Linked DNA regions of Homo sapiens. Changing the gene in region 1 together with any one later gene gives a genetic interaction. Each region holds a gene or a part of one and is shown in the gene's direction. Other genes may lie near its edges. The genes, in order: PDCD7 and METAP2.

What was found.
Region 2: changes in PDCD7 (region 1) and METAP2 together harm fitness more than expected from each alone (negative genetic interaction), as found in Homo sapiens cells (one large-scale study listed by BioGRID).

Annotation. Positions count from the first base shown.
Region 1 is NC_000015.10:65,120,048-65,123,836, reverse strand, and holds part of PDCD7 (programmed cell death protein 7), read left to right. Parts: intron 1-3,789. UniProt on the Homo sapiens protein: Promotes apoptosis when overexpressed.
Region 2 is NC_000012.12:95,494,599-95,498,422, forward strand, and holds part of METAP2 (methionine aminopeptidase 2), read left to right. Parts: intron 1-358; coding exon 359-540; intron 541-1,405; coding exon 1,406-1,500; intron 1,501-3,824. UniProt on the Homo sapiens protein: Cotranslationally removes the N-terminal methionine from nascent proteins. The N-terminal methionine is often cleaved when the second residue in the primary sequence is small and uncharged (Met-Ala-, Cys, Gly, Pro, Ser, Thr, or Val).

The DNA of each region.
Region 1 (3,789 bases):
TGTGTATACTTGAAAAACACTGGCCTGGCAACTTAGTAGAAGATAAATTTGAGTTGTAGTGTTTCTGTAGTTGAGAATGAGTGAATGGAAACCTGTAGAAGCAAAGCAGTTAGGAGAAAATCATCTAGAGAAATGTTAGCCTTGAGAGTGAGTTCCACAACCACTTAGCTGTAGTGGTTGAAGGAGGAAAGAATCCTACCTCCAAATTACAACTTTACAAGAAACAGAACTACTAACCTTGAGAAACCATTATTTATGCCATTTATCAGCCCAAACTGAAAATTTAGTGCTCAAAGCTGGCACTATTGTATAACACAAGTTGCAGCATAAATTGTTAAAACCCTGTTGAAGGGCCGGGCATGGTGGCTCATGCCTGTAATCCCAGCACTTTGGGAGGCCGAGGTGGGAGGATCATGAGGTCAGGAGATCAAGATTATCCTGGCCAACATGGTGAAACACTGTCTCTACTAAAAATACAGAAATTAGCTGGGAATGGTGGCACATGCCTGTAATCCCAGCTACTCGGGAGGCTGAGGCAGGAGAATCGCTTGAACCCAGGAATCAGAGGTTACAGTGAGGTGAGATCGCGCCACTGTACTCCAGCCTGGTGACAGAGCGAGACTCCGTCTCAAAACAAAACAAACAAAAAAACCTTGTTGAAAATCATTCATTCATTGAAGAAGTATCTATTAATTACCTTCTCTGTGTCAAGTGTTTGGTAACTGAGCAAATATATAGCTTTTTTAGGAAGCAGTTTAGAACACAGTTTGTTAGTCTTGAAAGTATTCACAAACATTTCCATTTTTGAGAATTTTTCTTTCTTTTTTTTTTTTTGAGACAGAGTTTCACTCTTGTTGCCCAGGCTGGAGTGCCGTGGTGCGATCTCGGCTCACTGTAAGCCCCGCTTTCTGGTTTCAAGCGATTCTCCTGCCTCAGCCTCCTGAGTAGCTGGGATTACAGGCACCTGCCACCACGCCCGGCTAATTTTTGTATTTTTAGTAGAGACAGGGTTTCACCATGTTGGCCAGGCTGGTCTCAAACTCCTGACCTCGTGATCCACCCGTCTCAGCCTCCCAAAGTGTTGGAATTACAGGAGCCACCCTGCCCGGCCAAGAATTTTTCTGATAGAAATCCCTAGGAAGGAAAAAAGTAACATGCCCAAGAATATTCATTGTATCACAATATAATAACAGGACATTTGGAATAGCTTAGGTGTCCAGGAGTAGGGAACTTGATAAGTATATTCTAGTGTATTGATTTGATGAAATAGGATACAGCCATTAAATAATTATGAAGATTGGAGAAGAACGTACAGAATCAACAGGGAGAAGTGGAAATTACATACATGTAACGTTGAACTATATGAAGTTGCTAATACATGGACAAAAAGACCTGAAGAGAATGTGAGAAAGTATAAAATGGTTGATTATGGTAATGGGATTAGGATTTTTTTTTTCTTTCTTGTATCTGGTATTCTTTTTTTTTAAATTTATTTTTTTGGAGATAAGAGTCTTGCTCTGTCACCCAAGCCAGAGTGCAGTGGCATGATCTTGGCTCACTGCAGCCTCCACCTCCTGGGTTCAAGCGATTCTCCTGGCTTAGCCTCCTGAGTAGTTGGAACTACAGGCGCACGCCACCATGCTCGGCTAATTTTTTGTATTTTTAGTGGATATGGGGTTTCACCATGTTGGCCAGGCTGGTCTTGAACTCCTGAGCTCAGGCAACCTGCCTGCCTCAGTCTCCCAAAGTGCTAGGTTTACAGGTGTGAGCCACCACGCTTGGCCCTGTATCTGGTATTGCTAAAATGCTTGGGTAACATATTTTCCTTTAAAATCTTCAAGGACTGACAGGATAGATCACATCCACATCACTCTACATTGATTCACCTGGAAGCTTTTGTATTACAGGGCCATTATGGTAGTGAGTGCACAATTGCAGTCCACTCAAATATTCATTAAGTTAAAATCTTTTTTTCTTATGAAACTTTATGAAACATTTCACACATGCACAAAAATAGAATACATAAACACTCATCATCAACTATGATACCATTGTCACACCAAAAAAATTAGCAGTAATTCTTTGATATCACCTAATAACCTGACTATTTTCTCCACTGTGGCTTTAGATATGTTGGCTATACTGTTAGCTGACCTCATAGTTAAATCAGGATAATAACCATCCCAGTTTTACTGGGACTTGGGGCTTTCAGTGCTACATGCAGGCAAACCAAAACAGTTGGTCAGCCTACTGTCAGCAGCAGACTGCAAGGTCAGTGTGGTTGTTTTAAGTGTATCTTCCTCACCATCCAAGTGTGCACTCCCAAAATTCACACTCAGTCAGAGGAAGAATTGTTTATTAATTAGATCTGGGAGTTGATGCTAAGGGAATTTCACAAACAATGAAGTTAAGACAAGTTCCTCCCTTTAGTGAGCTCACTGTTTCAAGTGGAGGATCAAGACCATTAGAAATAAACAAAGTCGAAGCCAGGTATGGTGGTTCACGCCTGTAATCCCAGCACTTTGGGAGGCCAAGGTGGGTGGATCACCTGAGGTCAGGAGTTCGAGACCAGCCTGACCAACATGGAGAAACATCTACTAAAAATACAAAAATTAGCCGGGTGTGTTGGTGCATGCCTGTAATCCCAGCTACTCAGGAGGCTGAGTCAGGAGAATCGCTTGAACCCGGGATGCGTGGAGTTTGCAGTGAGCTGAGATCGCACCATTGCCCTCCAGCCTGGGCAACAAGAATGAAACTCCATCTCAAAAAAAAAAAAAAAAAAAGAAAGAAAGTCAGAGGTTAAGTGGTGTGGATGATCCAGAGGGAGGAGTTGAGAAAGTCAGGGTAGGGTCAGAGTAATTGAATACTCAGAAACATCAAATTGAGCCTTAAAAGATTGGGTAAAATTTCTAAATTTTAACCGATACATACTATAGCTAGGACTTTTAAACTTCCTCATTATAACACAAATTTTGGGATAAGAAAACGTGTGTAAAAGGCCATTTGGGCTGGATGCAGTGGCTCACTTTGGGAAGCCAAGCTGGTAGGATTGCTTGAGGCCAGGAGTTAGAGATTAGCCTGGGCAACATAGCAAGACCTCATACAAAAAAGTTTTGGTCTTTTTTTTTGGAGACGGAGTCTCACTCTGTTGCCCAGGCTGGAGTGCAGTGGTGTGATCTCCGCTCACTGCAAGCTCCACCTCCCAGGTTCACGCCATTCTCCTGTCTCAGCCTCCCGAGTAGCTGGGACTACAGGTACCTGCCACCATGCCTGGCTAATTTTTTGTATTTTTAGTAGAGACGGGGTTTCACCGTGTTAGCCAGGATGTTCTCAATCTCCTGACCTCGTGAGACCTCATACAAAAAATTTACAAATTAGTAGGTAGGGCCAGGCACAGTGGCTCATGCCTGTAATCCCAGCACTTAGGGAGGCCAAGGCAGGGGGATTGCTTGACCAGGAGTTTAAGACCAGCTTGAGAAACACAGGGATACCCTGTCTCTACAAAAATAAAAAAAAAATTGGCTAGATGTGGTGGCACGTGCCTGTGGTCCCAGCTACTTGGGAGGCTGAGGTGGGAGGATCTCGGGCCCAGGAGGTCGAGGCTGCAGTGAGTCGTGGTCATGCTGCCGCACTCCAGCCTGCACAACAGAGTGAGACCCTATCTGAAAATAAAAAATAAAAAATAAAAAAAAGCCAGGCATGGTGGTGCACACTTGTACTTGTAGCTACTTGGGAAGCCAAGGTGGGAGGATGGGTTGAGCCCAGGAGTTTGAAGTTGCAGTGAGCTAT
Region 2 (3,824 bases), on another chromosome or scaffold:
TGGTTAGTATAACATGTAATTCTCTGATTCCTACAATTTAAAAAATATACAACATGAACAAATAAGATCAGCATTTAAATTGGTCTAAGTTAGACTCTTATTTTCTAGTAAATTTAGTTAAAAGTGGATTGTGTTTCTCTGACTTTCTAGCAGAATCAAATTCCTTGTCTTCTAAAGATATGCTATTTTCATAGCATCAGAGAACTGTTATTTATTTATATTCAGAAAGTGCTCAGATCATTCCCAGAAGGTATTTAAGGTTTTTAGTAAACTTTCTGGACTTGATGAACTATATGGTATTAATATATAAAAGTAAGAATGTAAAAGTAAACAAGTTCCCTTTGCTTTTTTGTTTTAGTGAAAAGTTGGAAGACTGTTCACGCAAGTTAATAAAAGAGAATGGATTAAATGCAGGCCTGGCATTTCCTACTGGATGTTCTCTCAATAATTGTGCTGCCCATTATACTCCCAATGCCGGTGACACAACAGTATTACAGTATGATGACATCTGTAAAATAGACTTTGGAACACATATAAGTGGTAAATTCTTGCAGAAAATTCCTACCCCAGCCTCCTCCTGAAAAACTAGTTTTTGTCTCTGTTAAATGGAGTGATAAATACTGAACTCCCAAATTTTGTTCTTGCTTCCTCATTTCATTAGGAAAGGTGTGTTGAGGCAGATTTTTAAAAAAATTTTAGTGCACTTATAGGAGAGAGAGGCAGTTGTGACATTTACTTGAAAGCATACTACTAAGTAGAATAAAATGAAAACTGTTGGGTAGTTGAGGTTTATTACCCTTTGTATCAAGGCATGAAAGACATTATCCTACCTTTCTTTAGGTCATTGTTTCATATCTCTTTTATTCAAATAATAACATTTATTTAAAATACTTAAGTTTATCAGCCTTAATATACATGTTTGCTTTTCTGAATTCTCTCCAAAACCTGGTTAGGTAAGCACCTTGTTATCTTACTTACAAGTGAGAAAGCAAGCTTAGAATAAATACTTGCCTAAGGTTTCACTACCTTGGAAAAGTAAAAGTATATTCAGAGCCCTGTATACTTTCTCTGCCCTGCGTTACTATTTCTCATTTCCCTAGTCTTTTCTTGTATTCATTTTGTTTCTGTTTATATGTTTGTATAACTGCCAGGGTGAGCACTGAACTGGTGCTGTCTTGGGGTAATATATACTAACCTTGTAATTCTTTCTATTCTGAATCCTTTATATACTTCTACATTTTGTCTCTTTGATTATGAATGATCTTTGGGTATTTGGAGTGCAGCCTTCATTTGAGCCTTCATTCTATTTTTCTGTTAAACTAGCAAGATTAATAGATTAAATGCTGTAAAGTAGATAAATTGACTAGCTGATAAGTAAAATTAAAAGAGGAATTTTCTCTTTCAGGTAGGATTATTGACTGTGCTTTTACTGTCACTTTTAATCCCAAATATGATACGTTATTAAAAGCTGTAAAAGATGCTACTAACACTGGAATAAAGGTATGTGAACTGTAAGCACCATTTCATTCCCAATATTTTGAGCACTTTAAGGTCTTTTAAACACTTAACAGCATTTAAGCACTTTTAAGGCCTGTTTAAGGGCTTTGGGTAATTAAGAGGAATAAAATTGATCCATTTCCCTTATGGTTTTAAGCGGGTAAGTGTATGATTGTGTACCAAAGGTTGTTTTTTTGTTTGTTTGTTTGTTTCCCTTGAACTTTGCTAAAATTTATTAAAACAGAGTTTGGATCTATTTTTGCCTGTCAGTTGGCAGTGGTTTTTTTGTGGTTCTTTTTTAGAACAATTTTAGGTTCATAATAAAATTGAGCAGAAAGTACAGAGATTTCCCTTATACCCACCCCTCCCCAATTTCCTCCATTGTCAGCATCCCCACCACATAGGTATATTTGTTAAAATCATTTGAACTAGCATTGACCACATCACAATTATTCAAAGTTCATAGTTAACATTAGGGTTCATTCTTAGTAATATACATAAGGGGTTTGACAAATATATAATGACACGCATCTACCATTATAGTATCATACAGAGTATTTTCATAGCCACCAAAATCTTCTGTGCTCAACTGATTCATCCCTCTCTGTCCACCAAACTCTGGTACAGCCCAGCTTTTCCCCACCCACTCAAATTTTTTTTTTTTTTGGAGGGAGGTGCAGTTAAAATAGACATTACATAAAATTTACCATATTAACTTTTTCTTTCTTTTTTTTTTTTTTTTTTTTTGAGATGGAGTCTTACTCTGTTGCCCAGGCTGGAGTGCAGTGGCACGATCTCGACTCACTGCATCTTCTGCCTCCTGGTCTCAAGTGATACTCCTGCCTCAGCCTCCCGAGTTGCTGGGATTACAGGCACGCACAACCACTCCCGGCTGATTTTTATGTTTCTAGTAGAGATGGGGTTTCACCATGCTGGCCAGGCTGGTCTCAAACTCCTGATCTCAAGTGATCCTCCCGCCTTGGCCTCCCAAAGTGCTGGGATTACAGGCGTGATTCACCGCGCCTGGCCATTTTTAAGTATGTTGTTCATTGGTATTAAGTACATTCATAATATTGTGCAGCCATTATCACCATTCTTCTCTGTTTACTCTTCATGTTATAAAACTGAAACTCTATACTCATTAAACAGTAACTCCCATTTTCCTCTTCTCCCCCTACCCTGGCAACCACCATTCTACTATATATGATTTTTACTGCTGTAAGTACCTCATATAGTGTTTGTTGTTTTGTGACTGGTTTATTTCACTTAGCACAATGTACTCAAGGTTCACCTATGTTGTAGCATGTGTCAGAATTTACTTCCTTAAGGCTAAATAATCTATTGTGTGTATATACCACATTTTTGCTTATCCATTCATCCACTGATAGACACTTGGATTGCTCCGATGTTTTAGCTATTGTGAATATTGCTGCTATGAATACGGGTGTATAGATACCTCTTCAAGGTCTGTTTTCAATTCTTGGGTATATACCCAGAAGTGGATTTGGGAATCATCTGGTAATTATATCTTTTTAAACTTTTTGAGTATCTTCTCTACTACTTTCCACAGTGGCTGTACCATTTTCATTCCCACCAACAGTATGCAAGGAAAGGCTCCAATTTTTCCATTTCCTTGCCAACACTATTTTCTGGGTAGTTTTTGTTTGTTTTTTGTTTTTAATCTTTGGAGAAATGTCTATTCAAGTTTTTTGCCCATTTTTATTTATTTATTTTTTAATTAAAAAATGTAGGCCAGATGTGGTGGCTCATGCCTGTAATCCCAGCACTTTGAGAGGCCAAGGCGGGTGGATCACGAAGTCAGGAGATGGAGACCATCCTGGCTAACATGGTGAAACCCCGTCTCTACTAAAAATACCAAAAAAAAAAAATAGCTGGGTGTGGTGGCGGGCGCCTGTGGTCCCAGCTACTGAGGAGGCTGAGGCAGGAGAATGGCGTGAACCTGGGAGGCGGAGCTTGCAGTGAGCCGAGATCGCCCCACTGCACTCCAGCCTGGGCGACTGAGCGAGACTCCATCTCAAAAAAAAAAAAAAACAGTAGAGATTGGGGGTGTTGCTTTGTTGCCCAGGCTGATCTTGAATTCCTGAGCTCAAGCTGCACCCTCACCTTGTCCTCCCAAAGTGCTGGGATTACAGGCATGAGCCACCCTGCCCAGCTCTTTGCCTGCTTTTTAATTGAGTCGTTTGTTGTTGAGTTTTAGGAATTCTGTATAGATTCTGGATGTTAATCCTGTATCAGATATATTATTTGAAAATCCTTTTTCTCATATTGTGGGTTACCTTTTTACTCCGGATATTGTGTTTTGAAGC